6 separate regions of the Homo sapiens genome follow, and regions 1, 3, 4, 5 and 6 are each linked to region 2. The links come from fine-mapping of genetic effects on gene expression. A gene starts in region 2. Each other region holds a variant in brackets. All regions are shown on one strand. Distances are between the middles of the regions.

Region 1 (4,105 bases), 25 kb after region 2:
TTTGCCGTATTGGGTGGTCGGCAGTGCCTTTACAGCTGTGTGATTTTCTAACGTGGACCCTCGAGAGCCAGTGGATCCAGCCTCCGTGCGAGCAGTGCTGTTCTGACGGCCTGGCCCTGTGCTCTGGACTCTGGAGGAACGCTGCTTTCCCTTCCGGGCCAAAAGGCTACTTCAGTGGGCTGTGTTTGCGTTTCCTCTGCAGTTTCAAAGTATTAGAGACTTGATGTGCACAACTTGGAAAACATCTGAATTTCTGCATGAAATTAAATCTGCCCCAGACGTCAGGATTGTCACCACATCACCTGCGGGCTAGGAGAAGCGGCAAGGCTTAGATGCATTTATTGGTTTATGTTCTCTCTTTTCATGGGATAGTGTCCTCTTTTCCCCAGAGGCGGGTTGCAAGAGCAAATGATGTAAGTAACGTGAAAGAACACTGTGCTCGGGCAAGTCAGGTGGTCCATGGATAGAATTATGTCGTCATGTTACATTAATGCCCTGAGAGGAAGGGATAGCACTTTGGAATGAAGATGGAATTCGGCTTGAGCTGTTGATAGGGCCCCTTGTCTTCACGCTGCTGGAGAGCATACTCGGCGAGGCCGGGCCTTCCTCAGACACGTTGACACTAGGAAATGACGGCAGTGCGCTTCCCCATCCAGGAAGCTGTCTTGCCACGTCTTCAGAGCCTATCTCTATAGGATTTGGAATGAAAAGCCTTTTTTGAGTATTAACTTTCTGAACAAGTAGAGTGAACAGTAAATTAATTTACCTAGTGGATTTGCCATAGGAAAAACTGTACGTGTGGCTTAACCTTTGAGCCCTGATCAAGGTAACCTATTCAGCAGGACTTTGACCCTCGAGGTACCCATTTGCATTGCTTCTGCTGGCGTTCTGTGGGGAGAAAAACTAGCAGAGCTGTGCAAAGTCACCTGGGTGGGGCTGGCCCTCTGGCAGCCGTGACCAGGCCCTGAAGTGATAGTCAGTTGGAGCCCCATTTTCTGCAGCTGTGGGCAGCATCTCCAAGGAGGGAAGAAGACCAATGTCCTGGCCTTGCCGCCTTTGGTTGAGCAAATACTGTAAGATTGCGGATGGCTCTCAGCAACGCTTAGGAACAAAATTGGATTTGCCTCAGGACGGACTGCTGCAGTACAAAGAGCACACAATTTGTAGCGTATGCCCTTTTGACACAGAAAGTGCAAGCGTTTTGCCAAACGGGCTGGATGAGCTGCCCTCCATTCCTGGCTGACACACAGCTAAGATGGGGTGAGTGCCCTTACTCAGCAGGCGGCGTTATTCATCTGCAGCAGACGCCCTGCCTTTCTCCTTTCATCTGCCACGCTGACCCTTTTAGGGATCTGTCTTGAATGCTCCTTCATGTTTCTAAAGCATCTCTGATACTGAATTAAGCCTCTTGGGACCAACTCCATTTCTCCCTCTGAATTATGTGCATCTCCCGGCTGGGTCTCCTCAGCCTAAACAGGATGCCTCGGTGGCTTCAGTCATGTCACAGTACTGGGAGCATGACATCATCACAATGATTACCTCTCTTCAGTAGTGAAGGATCGCAATGGAAAACACCACTGTCTTTTCAGCCGTGAAAACTCTTTTGCCCTCAGAAAGCCAGTGATATTGTTACTCTTTTGAGCTGATGAGAAAATAATTGAGTAATCTGGATGCCATTTGGAGATGTGTTTTGTTTCCCTGGCCCCAAGTGGACCTGCCTTATTCAGGAATATCCTAACAGCTGTAGAATGCCCTGCACAGATGGCGTCTCCATGTCAGGGCCTTTTCAGTCAGCACAGAGTGTGGAAGAAGGGGAGAGCGACAGTCAGTGAAATGCCCCAGGCCAGGAGACCCTTGTCCCCCACTGTGAGGGCTCCGAGTGGCTCACCAGCGCTCACTGTGGAGCTCTGCGCGTTACATGGTCACACTCTCCCTGCTCGCCTGCCGTTTCTTCTCCAGGCTGTCTGCCCATTATAATGGGACGCTTTAAGGACGCTTTTGTATTTCTGCAGTTAACAGAGTGGATTAATGACACACAGCGTTGTTATAATTCAAAGTTGCTGATTGACCAAGGCAGTTAGAGTATGAATACTTACTAAATCATATTTAAATTTGTTACAAATGAAATGTAATACCACACTATGATAGAGATGGCTGCTGATAACATTTGTACTCCATTCCCCTCTGCCCCCGTGGGAGAGCGTAGAAGAAAATACTGACATCTACATATAGGCACATCCCATTTTGTGCCATCATGGCGGGTGAGGTGGTCATCTCATTT[C/T]GGGATGTTTTAGTATATCCCGTTTTCTTTGAGCAAGGTGTGCCTGTAAAGGAAGTGTGTCCGGAATTGGTGGGTTCTTGGTCTCACTGACTTCAAGAATGAAGCCGCAGACCCTCGCCGTGAGTGTTACAGCTCTTAAGGTGGCGCATCTGGAGTTTGTTCCTTCTGATGTTCGGATGTGTTCGGAGTTTCTTCCTTCTGGTGGGTTCGCGGTCTCACTGGCTCAGGAGTGAAGCTGCAGACCTTCGCAGTGAGTGTTACAGCTCATAAAAGCAGCGTGGACACAAAGAGTGAGCAGTAGCAAGATTTATTGCAAAGAGCGAAAGAACAAAGCTTCCACAGTGTGGAAGGGGACCCGAGCGGGTTGCCACTGCTGGCTCGGGCAGCCTGCTTTTATTTTCTTATCTGGCCCCACCCACATCCTGCTAATTGGTAGAGCCCAGTGGCCTGTTTTGACAGGGTGCTGATTGGTGTGTTTACAATCCCTGAGCTAGACACAAAGGTTCACCACCTCCCCATCAGATTAGTTAGATACAGAGTATCCACACAAAGGTTCTCCAAGGCCCCACCAGAGTAGCTAGATACAGAGTGTCGATTGGTGCATTCACAAACCCTGAGCTAGACACAGGGTGCTGATTGGTGTGTTTACAAACCTTGAGCTAGATACAGAGTGCCAATTGGTGTATTTACAATCCCTGAGCTAGACATAAAGGTTCCCCACGTCCCCACCAGACTCAGGAGCCCGGCTGGCTTCACCCAGTGGATCCCACACCGGGGCTGCAGGTGGAGCTGCCTGCCAGTCCCGCGCCGTACGTTTGCACTCCTCAGCCCTTGGGTGGTCGATGGGATTGGGCACCATGGAGCAGGGAGCGGCACTGGTCGGGGAGGCTCGGGCAGCACAGGAGCCCATGGAGTGGGTGGGAGGCTCAGGCATGGCAGGCTGCAGGTCCCGAGCCCTGCCCTGCGGGAAGGCAGCTAAGGCCTGGTGAGAAATTGAGTGCAGCGCTGGTGGGCTGGCACTGCTAGGGGACCCAGTACACCCTCTGCAGCTGCTGGCCTGGGTGCTAAGCCCCTCATTGCCCGGGGCCGGCAGGGCTGGCAGGGCCGGCCCGCTGGCTGCTCTGAGTGCGGGGCCCGCCAAGCCCACGCCCACCCAGAACTCCAGCTGGCCTGCAAGCGCCGCCGCACGCAGCCCCGGTTCTGCTTGCGCCTCTCCCTCCACACCTCCCTGCAAGCTGAGGGAGCGGGCTCCGGCCTTGGCCAGCCCAGAAAGGGGCTCCCACAGTGCAGCGGTGGGCTGAAGGGCTCCTCAAGTGCCGCCAAAGTGGGAGCCCAGGCAGAGGAGGTGCTGAGAGCAAGCGAGGGCTGTGAGGACTGCCAGCAGGCTGTCACTTCTCAGAAGCACCTAAATAGGAAGCCCATGGAAACAAAAGCTTTTCAACCCTGAAGCCCTTACATTCCTCTGGCACCACAGCTGCACTCAACAGACTGGCACCAGGCCCATTCGTGGGCCTCCAGGGTGCCAGGCACTGTGCTAGGGCTTAGGGTGCAGCAGTGAACAATCTGGAGTCTGTGCGAGGAGGCGGGAAACAGACCCACACTTACAGACCCTCACAGAGACACAAAGACTAGAACTGGGGACAGGGTGGTAATGCACCCGAGTCTGGGGGCCAGGGCTTCCGGGAGGAAGTAAACTTGTACTGAGACCTAAAGGATAAGTAGACAGTGGAGACCCAGGAGAGGTGGGTGGGAGAGAGGCCTAAGAAGAGTGTTCTGGGCAGAGGAGGAGCCATGAGAGGGCACCAGGGTGGGAGAAGCACAGCC
Region 2 (4,105 bases):
ATCACTGAACTCTATGGAGCAGACAGAGCAGGCCATTTACAGAAAAGAAAACCGAGGTTTGGTGTGATTCAATGTCCTCCCCAAGGTCACACAACTTCTAACTGCTAGAGTCAGAACTACCATAGGGGAGGGGTGGCTGCTTCCACATATCAATTTCTTAACCAAAAGAGAACTTCATCATAAATGCCGAATCTCGATAATTAGCGTAGATCTGTGCTCCTATCACCGAAATTTCATCTCATCAGAGAACCACCACCAGCAAAAAAGCTGTTTTAAAGTTAAAACTTAAACTGCTATCAATTTGGGAAATGGCTAAACCATGATATACTGAAACTATGGAACATGGTGCAGCAGTTGTTAAAAAATGACTTGAAGCATTACATGCTAACATTGAAAGTTACGGTGCAACAGTCCTTGTTAAAGCAGTCAAAAATGATGTTAAGTGCACACACGTAAAAGTACTCCAAAAGATCTAGAAGGATAAACACCACACACATAATAGTCGGCATCCCTGAAGACAGAGGTTGATAGTCAAAGACAAAATGCCATCTCTGTGATATGCTGTTTTTACAAAGAAAATGTACTACTCTGCTAATTTAGAATTAATTTTTAAATTTTTAATTAACCTGCGGGTTGAACAAGGTCAATTTCCTGCTCTAAAAAACTATGCGTCTATGAAGGAAATAGGAGCCCTCTCTAAATAAGAAGCCAAAATGCCTAAAAACCGTTCCAGCCTGTGAAAACAATAAACTGTAAATATCAGAAAACGTTCCTTGAAGAAGGCAATAGCTCAGAAATCTTTTTTCGGTATCTGGTCTCCTTTGTTGCAATAAGACAGCCCGTAAGCAATCTAGCAACCAGAACAGTTCAGTTCGGAGCAGGCTCCCGGGGAGATTTAGTTGTTAGAGTTCGGCAAGAAAGGTTTCACAAAGGAGCTGAGTTCTGGGGGAAATGAGAGGTGATGTGGCGGAGAGATGGATCCGGACGGGAAAATGTCTGGGAGGGGGTATACGGAGTTCATGAGAAGCCGGGGACAGTGAGAAAACTGCAGTCGAGTCCTGGAAGGGGTGAGAACGCCTGCGGAGGCGGGAGTCAGAGGGAAGTGGACAGCGCCGGCAGCCGGTTTACCTGGGTGAGAATCCGGCCCTTGTTGTGGTCAAACAATGGAGGCGTCCGGCGGCAGCAGCCTTCTGCGCTGGGTGCGCGAGGGGTTCCTCATCACCTGAGCGGGATGCTCGCCTCCTCTGCCGGACGCAGGGCGCCCTGAAAAACACACAGCACCCCATGCAGCCGGCTCCTCCGCAGCCGCCCGGCTCCCCGGTCCCCTGGCGCGGCCATGACCGCCTCTCCCGGGACCCGCCTGGAAGGGCTCCAAGACGCGGCTCCACGGGCGACGAGGGCGGCAGCGCTCCCCCTTCCCTCGGCTCCAACAACAATGGAGCCTGGCTCGGGAGTCCGGCTCCCGAGGGGCCTCGCCCGGCCTCGCCCTGCCCGCTGCCCAGCCCTCGCTCGCACCGGCCGCCATCTGCGCCCCCCGGCCCCGCTCCCCCGCACTGCGGGCCCGCGGCCGACCGCCCGAGGCCCGAGGGGCGGCTTCTCAGCCCGGGACCCGCCAGGCTGCGCGGAGCCGCTCTGACCTTCCCCGCCATCCCGAGGCCCATCCTCCGGGATGGGTTGTTTTTCTTTTCTTTAAGCCACTCCACCTCCTTCCCACCCCCAGCCCGCTCCCTGGCCCCCGGCCCCCGCCTCCCTCCGGGAAAGAAAGAAAGACTGCAGCCCGGCCGCCGAGAACTCACTCCAAGTGAGGGGAGTCAGCGCCCCAGGCCGCGGGCGCCGCGCACCCACCTCCCTCTCCTCAGGGACACCTCACAGGTGCGCCTCCGAGCCGCGCGCGCGCGCGCTCCGCACACCCAGACGCCTCCGGGGGACAGCGCGCGTGCGCACGCACGAGGCCGGGGAAGCCCCGGGGGAGCGGGGGCCGCACGCATGCGCGGCCACCCGGCCCGCGCCCCCACCGCCCGCCTCCGCCCCCGCCCCCCAGCCCCGGCCCGGTCGGGCCCGGCCATCCCCCACCCCAGCGCCCGGCGCGCGCGCTCCCGCTCGCCTCCCTCGCTCCTCCCCGCGCCCCCCCCTCCCTCGGGCCGCGTTACCCAGGGCAACCGCAGTGCGGCCGCACCTGAGCTGTGCGCCTGCGTCCCGCGGGCCCGACCCTCCCTTCCCCTCGGCCTTCGCCCCTGCCCCGCCACAGCCGGGCGGAAGGGGGCGTAGCCCCGCCTCGCCAAGTGAATATCGGCCCGCCGCCCCCGCCCAGCCCGGCAGACACAGGCCCGCCGCCGCGCCGGCGCCTAGCCCGCCGGGTCAGCGCGGCCAGGCCTCGCCGCCGGCCCCGCTCCCAGGGTGCACCGCGGCTAGCGCTGGGGTGGGAGCGGGCGAGATGCGCCGGGCGGGCGGTGCCCACTGACCTCCCTCGGCGGCCCGGCCCGGGCAGCGCCCGAGCCCAGGCAGCCCCGCCCGCCGCGCCCCGCCCAGCCCATGGGCCACGGGCCCCCACCGCCGCCCGCCGGGAGGACCGAGCCTAAGAGGGCAGCCGCCTGAAGGAACGCGACGGCGGCGCCCGCAGGTGAGGCGGGGCCCGGGGTGTGTCGAGTCCGGCCCCGCTCACCTGGCAGCGCCGGCGGGGGCGGAGGGGCCGGGCAGGGGCGGAGGGGCCGGGCAGGGACGGGAGTTCGTGGCGAAGACTTTAAAAACCCTCCCCGCCGGGAGACGGGGGACGGGGTCCTCCTGCCCCACCTCCGGGGCTTGGGAGCCACGTTAGCTCCCCCAGGGGCAGGGGTGGCCCCGGGCGAAGGCAACTCGGGAGACGGCGGAGTCGGGGAAAGAGGGTCCCTGAGGCTCGGCGACCCCCGCGCCCGCCCCCGCGGGGTCTGCCGGCCCTTTCTGGGGAGGGGGCTCCCCGGCCCGGGCTCCAGTCCAGGGTGCGGACCGGCCGCGGCGCGCGCCCACCCCAGTGCCAAGGGGGAGGAGAGGCCGGTCCCGGGGCGCTCCTGTCTGCCCCGGGGTGGGATCGCAGGGCGAGGGATCCGCATTGCAGGTGCACCAGGAGCGCCCCGGGGCCTAGCCCGGCTTTGTCTGGGATGCTGTGGGGAGGAGGCCGTCTGAATCCACATCGCCTTTTTAAATGCTTGTTACCACCCGGGGAACCTTAGAGACCCTCCCTGACAAGTTGTATCGCCTCCCGTCCTGGTAGCCTTTCCGTAAGTACACTACCTTGCCAGCCCCTTCCTGAAGCTTTGATGCGGCTTTAGTTTACTCTGAGTAACGATTTGCCTGTGATTCGTGAAACGGAGCAGAATGCACAAACGCAGCAGAGCTCCAGGCTTGGCTACTGGGCTGCCGTCTGCTACGGCGAGTGAGTTTCTCTAACTTAGGTTTTCATGCTGACCTGTATTGTTTCATTTCAAGTTTTGGTATTTAGCAGTACGATCTAGTCCACTAAGGAAAATTAGGCTGCCAGAGAGAAAATATAACCGCGCTCTGTAGCTTAGGTTGCAGTAGTCGGTTTTATAACAAAATGCAAGCTACCACGCTGTAATACTTTAACATATTACGCAGTTCCAGAAACCTGTAAGAGTATTAAAACTAGGATTGCCATTTTAAAACTTTTACGTTTGAAATTTATTTAAAGAGCATTGGTATTGATAAAACGACTTTTCTTTTTTTTTTTTTTTGCTCATCAAGAATTCCCATGCATTTTCTCGCTATTGCATTGTAAGGAAAAAGATGCTAACGTTTAAAGTGGCTTTTACCTCCAAAGATGTTTTGAAATGTATGTAATTCTTTTGGCTAACTGTTCATCTTATGTGAAATATGCTTGGAAGAAGGCTTTAAAACTCGTGATTATATATACGGGTATGCGTACATATCCATACACACCACTGAAAAATCTTAAAATAGTTTTGTTACTCCTCTGCGTATTATAATTACTCAGTAAATTTAGTTTAGGTACATTTAAGATCTAAAGTACAGGACAATTATTTGTGTGAGATTTTTACTGTGACACATTTTAAATACATCGGTCTAACAAATAGGGTTTTTTTGAAATTAG
Region 3 (4,105 bases), 33 kb after region 2:
ATGGTCCAGGGCTCGCTCAGCCCTGCGCAGGCGTGCCGGGGCAAGGCGGAGCAGCTACACTGGAACATATATAGAGATATACATAGAGCAAGGAAATGACAAGCTCTTTATGGTTTCAAGAAACTTTGAAGAACTTCTCCATTCCCCACAATGCCTTTTTCTAAACAGGCCTCACAATGGCAGTTACTATTCATGAGAGTGTCCAGTTCCTTGTAAAAGACACAGACCATTTCCACCAAGCCTTAGTGGATTACCGAGCACTGATTTTTTTCCATTTGCATTGCTCATATTACAGCCTCCTGAGTGCGCCACCCAGGAGCCCAGACATCTTTTTGTCTGCGTGTGGTAGGGAAGGCGCCGTGGGCTTCTTGGGGTGGTGGAATGGGAGCCTGTCCTCAGAAGTCTCCCTGTGGAGGGATACCAGGGACCTCCCCCGAAGCCCTGGGACTGGGAGCTGGGCCTGTGGGAATGCAGAGGAACAGGATTTCAGCCTGACACTAGGGACCTCCAGCGTCCACACCTGCCAGCACTGAAGCCTTGGGAAAGGAGCTACCCGTGTCATGGAAGCCAGGGCGTCCTCGCTCCCTGTCCTCTCCTGGCCCAGGCTAATCTGAAGCAGCATAGTTTTGCCCTGTGGCCTCTCCAGTCACGGTTCTCAACCTGAGGTCCCAAGGCCACCTGCCCACCCACCCACCCACCTGATGTAGTACTCCCAGCAGCAGCAGGGTCTCACAGCAAGGGCTGTGTCTTAGGGGAGGCAGTTTCAAAAGCCTCTCAGGTGGTTCCAGTCGGGGCGTCTCCCCTCCCAGTGGTGAAAATCATTGTTTTACATTAGTGCACCCAAAACTGCCCAATTCCAAGCAGTTTCGGGACCCAGGGTACAGCATAGACTCTTGGCTTCCCTCCCCTGGGGGCTGTGACCCCAGAAGTCTGGGCGGGCCCAGGGAGTGCGCAGGTTTAGAAGCGTTGCAGTGCCCTGACGCTCGGGCAGGCTCAGCAGTGCAGCGTTTGGAGACCAGCAGCAGTTGGCTGCTGTCAGCTCAGTGTGCACCAAGCTTTCATGGGAAGACTGAAATTTCCAGAAAGGGGGTACGTACAGAGGAGGAGGTGGAGTGGAGCTTTCTATAAAGAGCAAGAAATTGGCAAAACAGGAGGTGCTGATTCCTGGGAAGGACAGTCACTGAAGCAGCTCTCCAGAGCTGGGGATGGAGGAGCAGTCGTACCAGCTCCTTCCCACAGGACGGCCCACTCAAGTCGGGGCCGGTAAACATCAGCCCGGAGCCAAGGCTGCACCCTGGAGGAGGAGGCAGCACAGCTAGATGACTCTCAAGGAAGGATGATGAGGAGGATGTCTATCCAGGAGGAGCTTCTCTCAGGATGCTGTGGCGAAAAGAACCAGAGTGATGCTTAATGAGCCCCAGATTTGGGCCTCTGCTCTGACTCGGAGGGGCTGTGTGGCCTTGGGCAGGTTCTTTGACATCTCTGAACCTGCATCTTCATCTGACAGGTGCCCCACAAATCCAAGTCCCCAGTCCGACCACCAGGGCCCTCTGCCTTTGTGGGCTGCCCCTCACAGGACATGAGCAAAGCCCAGGGACAGCCTTGTTCCTGAATGTTCCAAAC[G/A]TCCATCAGCCTTTTGCAGCACTGCCTGGGGGAAGAAAAATCCCAGGATGCTCACAGCAGGCCAGGGATGTGGTTGAAGGTCTGAGGTTGCAGCCCTTCCTCGGAAGGAGCCCAAGGCCCACTGTCCACCCGAGTGTGGGCTGAAAGCAAAGGCCCTGCGACAGGCATGGGTTGTTGTCCCACAGGCCCTGGGGGAAGGACAGCGGGTACCAGGCCCAATGCCGTGCCCAGGTCAGCATTTCAGGTTGCAGGGGTTCAGCCCAGGTGGCTGGGCTCCTGGGTCTTACAGTGTCTACAGAGTCGTGTGTGTGTCTCTGTCCCTCTCTCTACCTCTGAAACTGTGTTTTAGGATCTATTTTCCTTTTGGCAAAAGAAGAAACCTCATGAAAGGTAGTACTGCATGCATCCTTTTTAGGGAGGTCATTTGCTGACATTATACCTGCACATACACACACAGACACATGGTTTTTAAAACTAGAAACTTGCAATGGTTCAACTTAAAATTTTTCAACTGCATGGGGCAATACCCATTCAGTACACTCCTCGACTTACCATGGATATGTCCAGATAAACCCATGGTAAGCTGAAAATATCGAAAACACACTTTTGACTTACGGTATTTTCAACTTACATTGGATTTTTCGGGACATGACCCCATGCTAAGTCGAGGAGCGCCCATCACCTGCAGCGAGCTTGTAACATGCAAGTGTCCTGCACAAGACCAGTCCAGTCAGCTGTGGGCCCTCAAAAGCTCAGAGTCTGGCGGCGGGACATGCTGCAGAGCTGCTGCTAGCTCAGGCAGGTGGGAAAATTCAAAGCAAGACAGACAGAAGCCCGGGAAAGACGTCCAGTGGCGTCCAGTGCCTAGGCAGGCCCTGGGTGGTGGAGTTGGTACAGGGAAACTGGGCGTGCAGGTCTGGAGTTAGGGCAAGGACAGAGGGTACAATAGAGACAGAACAAGAGGTGGTGGCTTGGGGAGAGTGATGGAAGCTTTGATTTATGTGGGAGCAGATAACATTCAGGACAGATTGAGGAACTGGAAGGCATCTGGCAGTTTGGGTTTTATTAGGCAGTGAGGAACCATTTTGAACAGAGGACAAGAATATTTAGGGGGTGACCAAGCTTCCTAAATACAGGATGGGCTGAAACGAAGACCAGAGAGGAGGTGGGACCAAGGCCGGCTGGAGGAGCAGGGAGGGGGCAGCACTGAGCAGCCAGCAGAAAGGCACAGTCAGGGAGGGGAGGCCAGGGATGGCGACTGCATCCAGTTTCCCTGGGAGAGTCAAGATGTGGGAAGCAGAGCAGCTATCTGGACTTGAGGGTGTGTCTGACGGACACTCACTTGGAGAAGTGGTGCTCAGGAGACACTGAATCGGGAGCTGATGCTCAAGTTGAATTCCAGACCAGCAAGGAAGAGTCTAGAAAGAACTTCCCAGGGGCCAGGCAAGGAGGATGGCCAGCCAGCCAGCGTTAGGAGGAGTAGGATGGTGACCCAGGGTTTAGAGCCAAGGGTGCTATGTGAGGTGACCAGGGACTGCAGGTCACCAGAAGAGCAGGAGAAGGAGGTGGCTGGTGTTTGCTGAAGGACTGGGTGAGGGCAGGCACCCAGGGACAGCAAAAGGAGGCAGAGGCCCGAAGTGTTAGGGCAGGGGCAGGGAGGGACCAAGGGTAAGAGCCACAGAGGCGAGACAGCTCACTCTCTGAGCAGGAAGTGGGAAAGAGTCTGTGTGTGTGTGTGTGTGAGAGAGACGGGGGTAGGGGGGTGAGAGAGGCGGCCAGCGGCAGAGCAAAGGTGACAGCCCCACACCTCTTCTCCTCTAAACATCAGAATTTTAATTCAATAGACATGGATAATTCTTTTTACATTTGAGTTTCAAAACAGTACTTTGAATGTAGCAGGCATTCCATAAATGCCATCTGAGCAGACAGAGGGATTTGCGGCCAGTTGAATCCTAAGTGTTTGCTGAGGTCTGATACTCTGCAATTGCCTGTTTTAAGTTCAGCATCTTTAAGGTTCAGAGACATTCTTTTATGCAGTAGGCCAGAGAACTAAGAGCCGGAAAGGGCCTCTGAGATGCCCCGATCTCCCCACCTCGGGGAGGGGAGGGGTCTTTCCAGAGCCCCCACAGCCCTGCCTTCTGCATGGCCCCCACAGCCTAGACAGGGCCCCCACCAGACAGGTCCGCCTGCCCCATAGGCCTCACCACTCGGCCTCAGTCTAATGAGTTCTTCACCTGCTTCCTCGGCTTATTCTTGTAGGAGACGGGACTTCTAAAAGCAGTGAATTAAAGAAAAGATGTGAAGAGCTGGAAGCCCAACTGAAAGTGAAAGAGAACGAAAATGCTGAGTTGTTGAAAGAACTGGAGCAGAAAAACGCGATGATCACAGTGCTGGAGAACACCATCAAGGAGCGAGAGAAGAAGTACCTGGAGGAGCTGAAGGCCAAGAGTCACAAGCTGACCCTGCTGTCTAGCGAGCTGGA
Region 4 (4,000 bases), 110 kb after region 2:
CGAACTGCTCAAAATTAAAGAATGCCAAAAACAAGACAACGGAATTCAGCGTGGAATCCTGGGTTCATCCAGAATCAGGGGAAAAGCGCTAAGAAGCTGTTTTAAAAGCCATGAGTTGGGACTTTGGACTCTTGTTATTTAAGGATTTTATTTATTATTAATGGGATTTGATTAGAACATAAAATCAGAACCATTCCTGAGTTTAGCAAAGAGATATTATAGGACCAACTAAAAGCTTTTTACCTTACACACCCTCAGAGCATTTCTGTACTTGGCCTCACTTGGCCTTTGCCATGGCATGTGGTGATGTCATCAGGGCACCATCAACCACGTCTACAGATGGAAAGCCGTGGCTCAGGAGGGCATTCCTGCACTTTCCATGGCCCTTTGCTACCTTTCCTTGACTTACCTTGCCATAGAACGTGGTGATCAGGCAGCTTGATGGCGGCTGTGTTTGAGAACTTAGAGTCACACAGATCAGGGCCAAATCCCTGGCCTTGGGCCACATTTCTGACCTTTTCTAGGCCTCAGTTTCCTCTGTGGTAAGCTGGGAACAATCCCGGTACCTACCACATTGCATCACTAAGACAACTGAGGTCACACATAAAAAGCACTAAGATTGGACTGCGCACTTCCGAAGCACAGCCTCCAAGACTGGACTCTAAGTCTGTTGAAATCCAAGCATGAAGCTACAATGTATAGTCCTGCCACCGTTTTTAATGTTGAGCTAATTAACATTAACTAACCCAGGCTCTTTCCTACCTACAAAGATACTCACTTTCGCTCCTTCTTGTCTGTTGGCTTGTTGATTTCCCTGAAGATGTTTGACAACACCCCATCTGTCCAGTCTCGGGTGGTTGGGTCCAGGATGCCGTAGAGTTCTATGACACTCACGGCTTTGGGGTTCAGGATGTACAACTTTGTCGTCAGCCCAAGCCTAAATCAAGAGAGGCTTTAGCCATGGTTCAAGACAACTAAATGCATGAGGAAAACAGTCTGGGTTCCCTCTATGAGGAATTAGATGTTTTGACTTTAATCCAAAATTGAAAATGCAACCCATGCAAACTCTTCACTGGGCTTCCCTTCACTGTTAGTGCTTTCTTCTAAATATAAAGCAACCACATTTCACCAAAAATGTGGCCACAGCACAAATGAAGTCTGAACTAGAAGCACAGCTTTGCCTCTGGAGGGCACCAAGAAGCTAACTTTCATGTATATTTCATATTTATGCATATTACATATTCATATATATGACATTTAAGTAAATATCTCAGAATTAAGGGCGTATAGGAGACCACACTCAGTCATCCACGATAATAACAAGGCTTTGGACTACTAATGTTCAATCCTCCTTATCTACAGAACAACAGCTGCTCTGTTGACTTCATGAATCAAGCAGACAGGGCATTTCTCACCACAGTGCCTGTAAATCCCTGCAGCACTAACTATAGGATTAATTCATCTATAGAGAACAAAACTTCACACACTCCACAGTTCACAACCAACGAATCAGTAAATCATAATGTACATGCTATATTACACATGCATACAACTGTGTGATAGTTCTATAAACTTACAATGAATGAATTAAAGAATGAAATGCAGATGGCCACGGCACAGCCCACTTAGAGTCAGTAAGCCACTGTCGACTGGTTTTCTCATATGAAACATATGAAGAAATAATGGGAACATATGACAGACACTTACTCTTTAGATTTTATAGACTGCCTAGAAATGTTTAAGTCACAGAAACTTTGGCTTGATTTAGATTTTTGCCGGGCTATC[A/G]GCATCCACGGAGGTCTTTCTGGAATCTAGTTATTGCTTAGAAGAGAAGTGAGGAGTCAGGAATCCACTTTCAGTAGAAGGCTTTCAATTCACTGCAGGCTTTTATGACATACTCTCCTTTTTTTTTTTTTTTAGAGAGAAGGTCTCACTCTGTTGCCCAGGCTGGTGTGCAGTGGCACAATCCTAGCCCACTGCAGCCTCAAATTCTTGGGCTCAAGCAATCCTCCCTCCTTAGCCTCCTGAGTAGCTGTACTACAGGTGCACATCACCACACCCAGCTAATTTTTTTTTAATGTGGAGACGGAGTCTCATTATGTTGCCCAGGCTGTTCTCAAAATCCTGGACTATGGGATCCTCCCACCCAGGCCTCCCAAAGTGCTGGGATTACAGGCGTGAGCCACCATGCCTGGCTCCTTTACGATCTTCAATGTGGGAGTGTACGATCACTTTTTCCTTCGTGAAGAATTGCCCCCGAAGGGCTAGCGATTATAAGGCACCCGGGGAGGTGACATTCGTTTTCTGGCCACTGCGAAACCACAGCAGTACTGCATAAGGTGAATCCTGACTTACTTTAAGGAAGCAATTTGGACCCCAAGAAACTATGACTTACATTCATTTTCAAAATATCCTTATAAGATAGTTTGTGAAATTCTCATTTCACAAATGAACCTATTCACCATCTGATGCACAAGCGGGTTGCTATTTTGCATTCTAAAATATCTTAACTAAGTCTGCAATAAAGTCAGTAAAAACACGCTGAGTCGAAAGGGGTGTGTATTACAAATTTACCCTCCCAGGAAATCAGAGAGCAAAGTGGGACTTGGTAATACTGGCACCAAACATATACTGTGAGCCCCTGTGGCAGCCAGGCCCTCCCTACGGAGGTCATACTCACTTGGTCTGGGCCTGACACAGAGTGTTAATGACGACGGACTTGCCCCCTCTGGTGGGCCCCACCACCATCGTCGTGTGGCGGGTTAACATGGTCTCGAACATTTGAACCACTTTATCCACCTGCGGGACAAACAATGGCAGCTGGGCTAAAACATTATCTTTTTTCTGACGCAGTTTTATTGCGATACAACACACACGCCATACAATTTACCTTTGAAAGGGTACAAGTCAATGGTTTCCAGTATATTCACAGAGTTGTGCAACCATCCCCATGAGCAATTTTAGAACATTTTTATCACCCCTCCCCACAAAAAACCCTGTACCCATCTCTCCCAATCCCCTTTCCCCCAGCCCCTGGCAACCACTCATCTACTTCCTGTCTCTACGGATTTGCGTATTCTGGGCATTTCATGGAAATGGGATCCTAGAATGTGTGATCTCTCACATCTGGCTTCTTTCGCTTAGCATGTTTTCAAAGCTCATCCATGTTGTAGCACGCGTGCTGCATTCCTTTCTATGGCCAAAATATATCCCATGGGATGGACAGACCACATTCTGTTTCAGCAGTGGATCCATCAACTGATGGATGTTGGGTTGTTCCCACTTTTTGGCTATTATGAATAATGCTGCTCCGGACATTCATGAACAATTCTGAGCGGACGTTCGTCCTCATTCTTGGGTAGATCCCCAGCAGTGAAATTGCTGGGTCTTATGGTAACTCTCGGTTTAACCTGTTGAGGAACTGCCAGGCTGTTTTCCAAAGTGGCTGCACCATTTTATATTCCTTCCAGAAAACACATCTTTTTCAACAACCAACTCCAGAGAAAATCAGGGTCAGGAAAAGCACAGAAAGCTCTCGTCCACGGCCGGTACCCGGTGCCCACTGCCCAGGCCTGAGGTCTCCGGGGTAGCCTGACACCCTGAAGCTGCCCGACCCGAGGCAACCCCCCAGGTCTGGAGGCTCTGGGCATTTACACTCTCAGCAGGACTCTGCCAATCAATACGTGTTTGGCTTAATGACAACATATACAACTTACAGGCTTCAGAGGATCCAAATCCTATCCCTGCAATATCTAATTTAATTTTTTTTTAAGTGTGACTCAGGAGAAAAAAAAGGTGAGGTGAGGAAAGAACCTCTGATGGTTGATGCCTCAAAACAAAATATTTGAGTCACCTGATCACATTGTGTGAAAAAAAACTATATATATAAAATTTAGCCTTAAAAAGGAAGAAATTCTGACACATGCCACAACATGGATAAATGTTGAAAACACTGTTAGTGAAATAAGCCAGACACAAAAGGACAAAAATTACATGATTC
Region 5 (4,105 bases), 68 kb before region 2:
CAATCTCGGCTCACTGCAAGCTCCGCCTCCCAAGTTCAAGTGATTCTCCTGCCTCCGCGTCCCAAGTACCTGGGATTACAGGTTCCTGCTGCCACACCCAGCTATTTTTTGTATTTTTAGTAGAGACGGGGTTTTGCCATGTTGCCCAGGCTGGTCTCGAACTCCTGACCTCAGGTGATCTGCCTACCTTGGCTTCCCAAAGTGCTGAGATTACAGGCATGAGCCACTGTGCCCGGCCTCGGTGGCCTCTCTTGACCAGTGATAAACAGGTGGCAGCAAAAGACAGGGAGAGGCCAGACTTGTGCAAACGGGCCCAGTGGAAGCACCTCTAGTGCCTAAGGCATGCATGCACTCTGTTCCTCTAATTTGGGGATGGAATCCAAAATCCCGGCCTACCTCAGTGGTTCTCAACCAGGGTAGGGGCTCCCTGACCCACGTCCCAGGAAACAAACAGCATCACTAAGAGACCCTCTGCTCACCCCGAGTGGCTTCCACACGTCACTCTCCTGAGCAGCCACGCAGGGTACTGGGCAGAGGAAGGACAAGCAGGGTAGGGGAGAGGCCCTGGCTCATCCCGCGTTGCTGGAAGGGGGCTCGTCCTTCGCCTGGTGCAGGGGTCCCTGCTTAGGGATGCAGGAACCCCTGCCAGTCTCTAGGCCAGGAGAAATGCTTGTGACAGGGCAAACATTCCGTCTACTGGTGCTCCTGGAACCTATCCTCATATTCAACGCCACAGAGATACAGTTTTCTGCTGAAAGAGTTCCGACTCAGGGTAAGACAGAATTTGGGATTAATAAGGTGACCCTAGAACACCTCCCATAGAAGAGAGATCTGTGTGGGTGGCTTCCGGTCCTCACATGGGAGAAAGACTCCATTCAACTTGAGTCCATCAGATCAACATTTCTCCGCAATCATTCATGATTAAAACAAGATAATAAAAAGAAAGGCAGAAGAAAGAATTAAAGATATTCCCTAGTGATTGTTCAATTTTACTGGTGTGCTGATGGAAATGGTGTAATCTCATTGCTGCAAGAAGCCGTATAGTTGGGGAAAGCCTCTTTTATGAATGTCAAGCATCCCTCCTATCTGGGGGAACCCCCCATTCCGTGGGGCTTGCTGTGAGGCAGGGACCCACCACCCGCTACGGCCAACGAAGGCTGAGGTACAGATAACCCAGCCCCGGGAGCTGTGGCGTAGGCATGTGGCCTCAGCCTGGAACCTGGTACCTGTGAATGTGACCTTATCTGCAAGAAGGACTTTGCAGATGTAATCAAGTTCAGATGAGGTCATACTGGATTAGGGTGTGCCCTAAATCCAGTATGACTGGTGTCCTTCTAAGAAGAGGGAAATCTGGACACAGAGACACACGCAGAAGGAAGATGGCCACATGGAGATGGAGGCAGAGATAGGAGTGAAACATCCACAAGCCCACTGAAGCTGAGGGTTGCCGCGGCCCCCGGAAGCTGAGAGGCACAAAACACATTCCTCCCTAGGGCCTCAGTGGGTACGTGCCCCTGTGGCCTTCTGGCCTCCAGAATTGTGAGGGTGAACTTCTGCTATTATAAGACACCTGGCACGTGGGCTTTGATATGGCAACTACAGGGCGCTAACACAGATGCCCACACTAAGGACCTGACCCTTGAGGCTGTGACACAGAGATCCAGTGATGGGGAGTTTCCCAGCAGCAGGACAGCACCAAAGGCCCATCAGGACAGCAAGTGTCAGAGGCTGCAGGGCCCCAGAGACCAGGACAGATTGCCCAGGGCAGTGGCCAATGTCTGATAATGGCAGGACTTATGGCGGCGTCCACATCAGCCTGTACCTGTGACCCTTGACCTGCCTAGCTGCTCTTGGTCTTACCGGTTTTACAAGCCTGACTCTCAGTCGGGCGCAGTGGCTCACA[C/T]CTGTAATCCCGGCACTTTGGGAGGCCAAAGGAGGCAGATCACTTGAGGCCAGGAGTTTGAGACCAGCCTGGCCAACATGGTGAAACCCCGTCTCTACTAAAAATACAAAAAAATTAGCTGGGCATGGTGGTGGGCGCCTGTAATTGCAGCTATTTGGGAGGCTGAGGCAGGAGAATCTCTTGAACGCAGGAGGCAGAGGTTGCAGTGAGCCGAGATCATGCCACTGCATGCCAGCATGGGTGACAGAGCGAGACTCCATCTCAAAAACAAATAGAAAAAAAATGATAAAATAAAACCTGATTCTCCATTCCAAACGCTGCCCAATATCCTTCTAGAAAGGTCCTATTCTGCTCAAGTTAGCCAGTTAATTTCTACTGTTTGCAAGCAAAATCCCTGACTGGTATAAAGCCTCATCCAAATAATTCAGAATACATTATCTATGCATACAAAAGGCCCCGGAGCTTTTTTCTGACTCTCAACTGGACATAATCGTTACATGCCTGTGAACACTCAAGCAGTGATCATCACCAGTAATTCATCAATGTTGCAATGACAGGTGATGGGTAGTTAATGACTATTGTGAAAACTGCACTTATCTCTGGGGGTTTACTTAGCTGTAAGAAGTAAGCTTTACTTCTCAAAATCAAGGTTAGAATTTCTGCAACATGGAATTTACAATATGTATCATCTATTTTGACTTTGATGCTATGCATTAAAGTGTTTTTAATAATTGGGTATATATTAAACATTTATCGACTTAACTAAAAGATATAAAGTTTTAAGAAAAATGGGTGTATTATAAAATCCCTTCAAAACACCCCAAAATGCTAATGAAATAAGAGATCAAGTAGGTAGACTGAAATAAAACTCTACAGTGTTAAAAAACAACAAACAAAATTGGAAACGAGAAGAGTGGTGCCTCAGGAGGAAATAACAGCATTGGGACACTCGGCAAGCTATGACGGAGCCAGGCAGCCCCGCACAGGAAATGCACGTTACTGCCGTGAGCACCGCCAAGAATGTGGACATCACGTTCATAGTGTGTGGCCCTCCCGGGCCCTTTGATATCAACATGCCCTCACGTTCAATAGAAGACATTTCCTGTGCATTTCACCTCTTCCCTGATCCCCAGGAAGTCCTAGGCAGGAATTCTGGCTGAATCTGCTTCCATTTCTAAATCCCATATTTGGTCAAATCCAATTATGTTGCCCCTTCAAGATTTCAATCAGAAACACTTGTATTTGAATTGAAAGGCCATAATGTGCTTACAAAGAAATATATCCATAAAAACACATTATACTTCATTAACAGTTATCTATTGACCAGGTGCGGTGGCTCACGCTTGTAATCCCAACACTTTGGGAGGCCAAGGCCGGTGGATTACTTGAGGTCAGGAGTTCGAAACCAGCCTGGCCAACATGGTGAAACCCTGTCTCTACTAAAAATATAAAAATTAGCCAGTTGTGATGGCACGTGCCTATAGTCCCAGCTACTCAGGAGTCTGAGGCAGAAGAATCACTTCAACTCAGGAGGCGGAGGTTGCAGCGAGCCAAGATCGCGCCACTGTACTCCAGCCTGGGCGAGAGAGCAAGACTCCATCTCAAAAAAAAAAAAAAAAGGTATTTATCATGATGTATATTACATTAGACAAGCTAGTTGGGGGGAAAAGAAAACCCTAAAAGTAAGTATCTATAACTTTCTGAAAGATCACTTCTGTTAATCCCTATTAAAGCCATCAAATCTTTTTCTCTAGCTAACTGAAAAAATCATCCAGGCAAAATGATACTAAATTTTTGGTTCTTATTCCCTTTTCCTGTTTCACTAGGAGCAAACAAAATCTATGTGGTTTCATTCATTTTCCTTTTTCATTCTTTCGGAGTTCTGGTCCTCCCAATAAGCTGTCCTGTGGGTGGAAATGTTTTTCAAAGAGAGGATAAGGTTGTTCTCTCCCACTGCAAACTCACCCAGTGCCCAACTGCAGGGTTGCTGAGTCAGTGGTGCAGAAAAGCAAACCACAGCTGATAGTTACCAAAGTTTCCCACAGTGGGTTCCAGGCCAAGTTGTCCAGCCTCTTTCTGAGTTAATTCTACCTCTGCAAGTGCTGTGTTGAAGATGGAATTTGTTTCCTCCGTGAATACATCCTTGTTCTGGTTTTAACATCTGTGGGTTTATATATAAGGGGTGAATGAATTTTAAAGGTT
Region 6 (4,105 bases), 45 kb before region 2:
TTGGTGAAGGCCCAAAAGTCATTTGGTAAAATTTAAAAATCCTGCAGTATTTTTTCCAGCTTGTTTGACTGCTTAGTTTCATATTCCTTATCTCATAAATGAATTGAAGGCTATGAAAGTTTTTCATTTCGGCCCCATCCACAAGACGTGCCCCACAGTGCCATCTCTGCCACTCATCTCTACTACACTTGATTTCCTCTTTATTTGTAACTTGGGATGAAATGGACAGGACTTTTGGCTCTTTCTCAGTGACTTCAATTTTTTATTACATTATAGTCAGAGAATATGACCTGTGAGATTTCTACATTTTGGAATCTGGTGAGATTTCCTTTCTGGCACAAAGCATGGCTAATTTCTATGACCATTCCAAGAGGATCTGCTGCACAAAGTTCACACACAGTGGACACATCAAGTTTGGTAACAGTGTTAGTTAAATAGCCAGATCCTTCTTTGTCTAGTTGATTTTCAAATTCTGATGGGTGAGGGTTAACATATCTTGCTGTGACTGGGAATTGCTTAATTTCTTACCATGTTCTATCTTTCAAAGCTATGTTGTGAGCTAATGAAAGTATATAACTATCTTCTTGACAAATTATTCCTTTCATAAACGGACTGACAATACTACCACCAGTTGCTTTCTTTTAGCATTTCCTGATCTTTTTCAACCCCTTCACTGTCAGCCTTTTGGGTCACCCCTTTATTTTAGGTGGTCTCCCATAACCATCATATACACGTTTGTGACGTCATTTACAAATCAACTTGAAAATGTCCCTAAGTAGCTGAATTTAACCAGTTCACATTTACTATGATTAACAATATGCTTCAACTTACTCCTGCCATCTTATCCTTTCCTGTTTTTTTAATTTCTTCTCCTAATGTTTACTGGATCAAGTGAGGCAAGCAAAACACAGAGGATTCAGTTCTTTCCAGACACTGCCTGTTTCAACTATAACAATGTGGCAACAACAGCTCCAGGAAGTAGGGCTTGCTGCTCTACCAGACTCTCCCGTCATCCTCCACAGACTGTAGAAACAGGACTTACCCTTGAGACTAAGTCCCTGTGGGTCTTGACCTTATCTCAGAAAGGGGAGCGGGGGGCACACAAGGATGGAAGAGTATCAGGGGTAAAAAAAAAAAAAAAAAAAAAAGACATTTTGGGGACAGACAGGATGAAGACTAAAGAGGACTGACTTAAACAGTCAGAGATCCCAGGCAAGTGAGGTAGGACATAAAAATTAGACATGAGAGAACATGGCATTGAGCAATATGAATAGGTCTATTTGAGAACCTAAATACAACCCACACCAGTACTGGGGCCCTCACCCATTTTACAGCAAGAACTGCCTCCTCTGTAACCAAGACAGATTCAGTTGAGATCTAGTGTTTTCCATTCAGGTAGCCAATTCCGTCCACGTCCAGCCAGTCCCCTCTGAATACTCAATTGTCCTCACCTATATTCTTTTAATACACTGTTCGCAGAACTGTTGTCTTAAGCGTATGACATCGAAACTGCCACACAGCCTACCTCCTGGGCCCAGCATAACAACACATGCACATGTATCCTTCCATTTTATGCCAACGTCCTTTTCCCTCTTTCCTCACAACACAGCGTTGTGTTTTTTCCTCCGTTTATTATACCCATCATTTCCTATCCATTCCACTAACTGGAACTCTTAGGCACCCCTTTTGCCTCCCAAGATCCCCAAACAACGAGTAACCATATGCCAGCCAGTGTTCTTT[A/C]TCTCTTAGAGTCACAAACATAAGGAAAGCCCCCTTTCCTAGAAAAATGCATAGACCTACAGGTACACAAAATTCTGCACATAACTTAAAAAGGTTCTAGACCTCCCCAAAAGCCGTCTGCAGGTCTTAGGTTTTAAAATTCTGTAAATACAACACCCCCACCATAATTCATGATGCAGAGAAGACCTGGATCAGGGCCAGCAAAGAATTAAGAGGGGGAGGGAAAGTCGGTCTCTCAGCGAAGCCATATTTAGACACAGTATTTAGGAAGGTACAGAGTCTATAAAATGCATACATCCGCCTAAAAATACACAAAATCTGTATGTGCTACTTTACTCTAGAAATGCAGTTTATTTACATATGCCTAAATCTGAGCAATAAAATTGCTTTGGTATAAAGTGTCATTTTCCACCGATATTTATGACAAGTTCTTACTGGCATAAACACACACACAGCCTTGGGATCTCTGGATTTGTTCATGTGTTTTGTAATATGTTAAAATGAGAATGATAAAAAAAATTCTTAAGTTTCAACTTACTTATGATTATAAAGTTATTCTACTTCATGTACATTGAGAGTGGAAATAAAGATATCCCAGGCCTCCCTGCCCCTTAGGGGTTTGGGTAAACTTGACTCAAAACTCCATTAATTCCATGGCCTGTAGCAGCTTTTAGCTACCCTGAAGATTTCTGCATATTCTGCATATTCCTTGGAGCTTGTTCTCAGGGGCACCCTCTTCTGGCTCCTATATTTATGTGTGGTACTTACGTGTTGCCCCATTTCACCCTGGATACAGCACTCAGCCCTTCCACCAGTTTCCATAAGAAATCCACCATGCCAAACACCCCTAACTTTAGGGAAAGACTTTGTGGTCACGAAGTTTTCCTACACAAGAGCTCAGAACTTCAGACCATCCTACTCCACTGGTTCCCTGGTCCTCTCTCCCACTCCAAGTCTACCCTTTGTTTTCTTACCTCCAACTACCCCAGGAGATTCAAGTTCTCTCTCTTACCATGTGGAGCAATTCAGCCCTCTCCAGGTCCTACCCCAATTTTAGATGTCCAAACCCACCACAGAGCTCAGCAAAACAAAAAGGAATCCAAATAACATGACCTTTCTTCCTTAATAGGCAACTGGGAATAGGAATTCGTTATAGCACTAAATGCTAGGCACTTTACGTTTATTTACTTCTCCCAACATTTCCATGAATTAGATATTTTCAAAACCATTTTAAAGATGAGAAACTTGAGGTTTAGAAAAATTAAGAAAATGAATATGGTTAGAGGAAGTGCTCTATCATCTTCATTTTTCCTCTCTTCCTCTCTAATCCATAGATCTTAACTCAGCTTTGCTATTTATATATGGCTCTTGCCCTGTAGTAGTATCAACCTTTCTCATCTTTTCCTAGATTTTACCACTGAGTATATTTTCCATCTGCTTCTGATATTTGCTTTCCATTCACCTAGTTTTTCAAATTTCTGAGAATATCAGTACATTACAAAGACTGAGAAATAATTCAAAAATTTTAAGAACAGAGCCAAGAGCTAGAAGGTCCCTTGGAAGGAATCATGTCCATGCTCACACAACACAAAGTAATCCCTCTTCAATTTCTGAGATGGCCTGACGAGCTGTGCCCACATTCTCACGCAGTAGACTATCTCAATGTTGGACTCTGATGCAAAGAGTTCTTCCTATCTGCAAGAGGCAATCTGCCGTTTATTCATGCTTCCAAGTTAGAAACCATGCAGTCATTCTGGACTTATCTTGGCTCACACTCTAAATCCTAGCAGATTCACCAAGAGTGAATCCCATCACAGATGACCTACCCTTGCCCCCACCCCCCACCCCCATCAGAAGGGCTAGTTTGGGTTGCTCCCATCCCAATGGTGGAATTGCAATGCAGACTTGTCTCTCAAAGCTGGTAGACGCCACAGCCAGTCAGACTGTTGACTGCGGCACAGAACGTGGGCCCCCTCTGCTTCAGCTGACAGCACTTCACGCCTTCCCAGGCATGGGCTGCAGTCAGCAGGGGCCAGGGCAGGGCTTGGAGGAACTGCCAAGGGGCACCAGGAAGATCACAGAAAGCACCAAAATGGATCACCCAAGGAAAAGGAATTAGCTGCCAACATTTTAAGATTAAACTGTGTGTGAAAATCGAGGTTGGTGTTTTCTTAGAAGAGCTGTGGGCCTGTATTCGCCGTGAACACAGAGCCACAGCCGAGCTGAGGCAGTCCTCTCAGTGGACTGTGCTCTCTCCAGATGGATTATTCCTGACTTGAGTCATTTATTACCTGTGTGGCTGTGACCTCAGACCAAGGTGTCCTCACACCTTAGTGTGCCCGAGAAAGGCCCATTCGAGGCTTGT

The links.
Region 1: its variant is fine-mapped to the expression of CCDC92 in whole blood (INTERVAL, PIP above 0.99).
Region 3: its variant is fine-mapped to the expression of CCDC92 in whole blood (INTERVAL, PIP above 0.99). The same link has a PIP of 0.9 or more in nasal epithelium.
Region 4: its variant is fine-mapped to the expression of CCDC92 in tibial artery (GTEx, PIP 0.98).
Region 5: its variant is fine-mapped to the expression of CCDC92 in whole blood (TOPMed, PIP above 0.99).
Region 6: its variant is fine-mapped to the expression of CCDC92 in whole blood (TOPMed, PIP above 0.99).

The regions. Positions count from the first base shown.
Region 1 is chr12:123,946,337-123,950,441 of GRCh38, reverse strand. The region is part of intron 1 of CCDC92 (coiled-coil domain containing 92); the gene reads left to right. Among named protein-coding and RNA genes, the nearest start is that of DNAH10OS, 13 kb to the right of the region's middle. The variant C/T (reference allele first, on the strand shown) is at 2,282.
Region 2 is chr12:123,971,044-123,975,148 of GRCh38, reverse strand. CCDC92 (coiled-coil domain containing 92) reads left to right here and starts at 2,318. Exons shown (of 5, transcript NM_025140.3): 1 at 2,318-2,620. ZNF664-RFLNA (ZNF664-RFLNA readthrough) reads right to left here and starts at 1,934. Exons shown (of 5, transcript NM_001347902.2): 1 at 1,846-1,934; 2 at 1,129-1,263. It overlaps ZNF664 (zinc finger protein 664), which reads right to left and starts at 1,934. Exons shown (of 5, transcript NM_152437.3): 1 at 1,797-1,934; 2 at 1,129-1,263. RefSeq lists silencers at 1,366-1,595, 1,706-1,785, 1,856-2,725, 2,756-2,875 and enhancers at 2,096-2,833, 2,834-3,571.
Region 3 is chr12:123,937,608-123,941,712 of GRCh38, reverse strand. CCDC92 (coiled-coil domain containing 92) reads left to right here. Exons shown (of 5, transcript NM_025140.3): 5 at 3,883-4,105. Among named protein-coding and RNA genes, the nearest start is that of DNAH10OS, 4.7 kb to the right of the region's middle. RefSeq lists enhancers at 2,663-3,163, 3,164-3,664. The variant G/A (reference allele first, on the strand shown) is at 1,624.
Region 4 is chr12:123,857,949-123,861,948 of GRCh38, reverse strand. It overlaps DNAH10 (dynein axonemal heavy chain 10), which reads right to left. Exons shown (of 79, transcript NM_001372106.1): 38 at 2,681-2,799; 39 at 779-937. Among named protein-coding and RNA genes, the nearest start is that of DNAH10OS, 75 kb to the left of the region's middle. The variant A/G (reference allele first, on the strand shown) is at 1,786.
Region 5 is chr12:124,039,288-124,043,392 of GRCh38, reverse strand. All of the region lies in intron 2 of ZNF664-RFLNA (ZNF664-RFLNA readthrough), which reads right to left. Among named protein-coding and RNA genes, the nearest start is that of ZNF664-RFLNA, 68 kb to the right of the region's middle. The variant C/T (reference allele first, on the strand shown) is at 1,904.
Region 6 is chr12:124,015,604-124,019,708 of GRCh38, reverse strand. The region is part of intron 2 of ZNF664-RFLNA (ZNF664-RFLNA readthrough); the gene reads right to left. Among named protein-coding and RNA genes, the nearest start is that of ZNF664-RFLNA, 44 kb to the right of the region's middle. The variant A/C (reference allele first, on the strand shown) is at 1,741.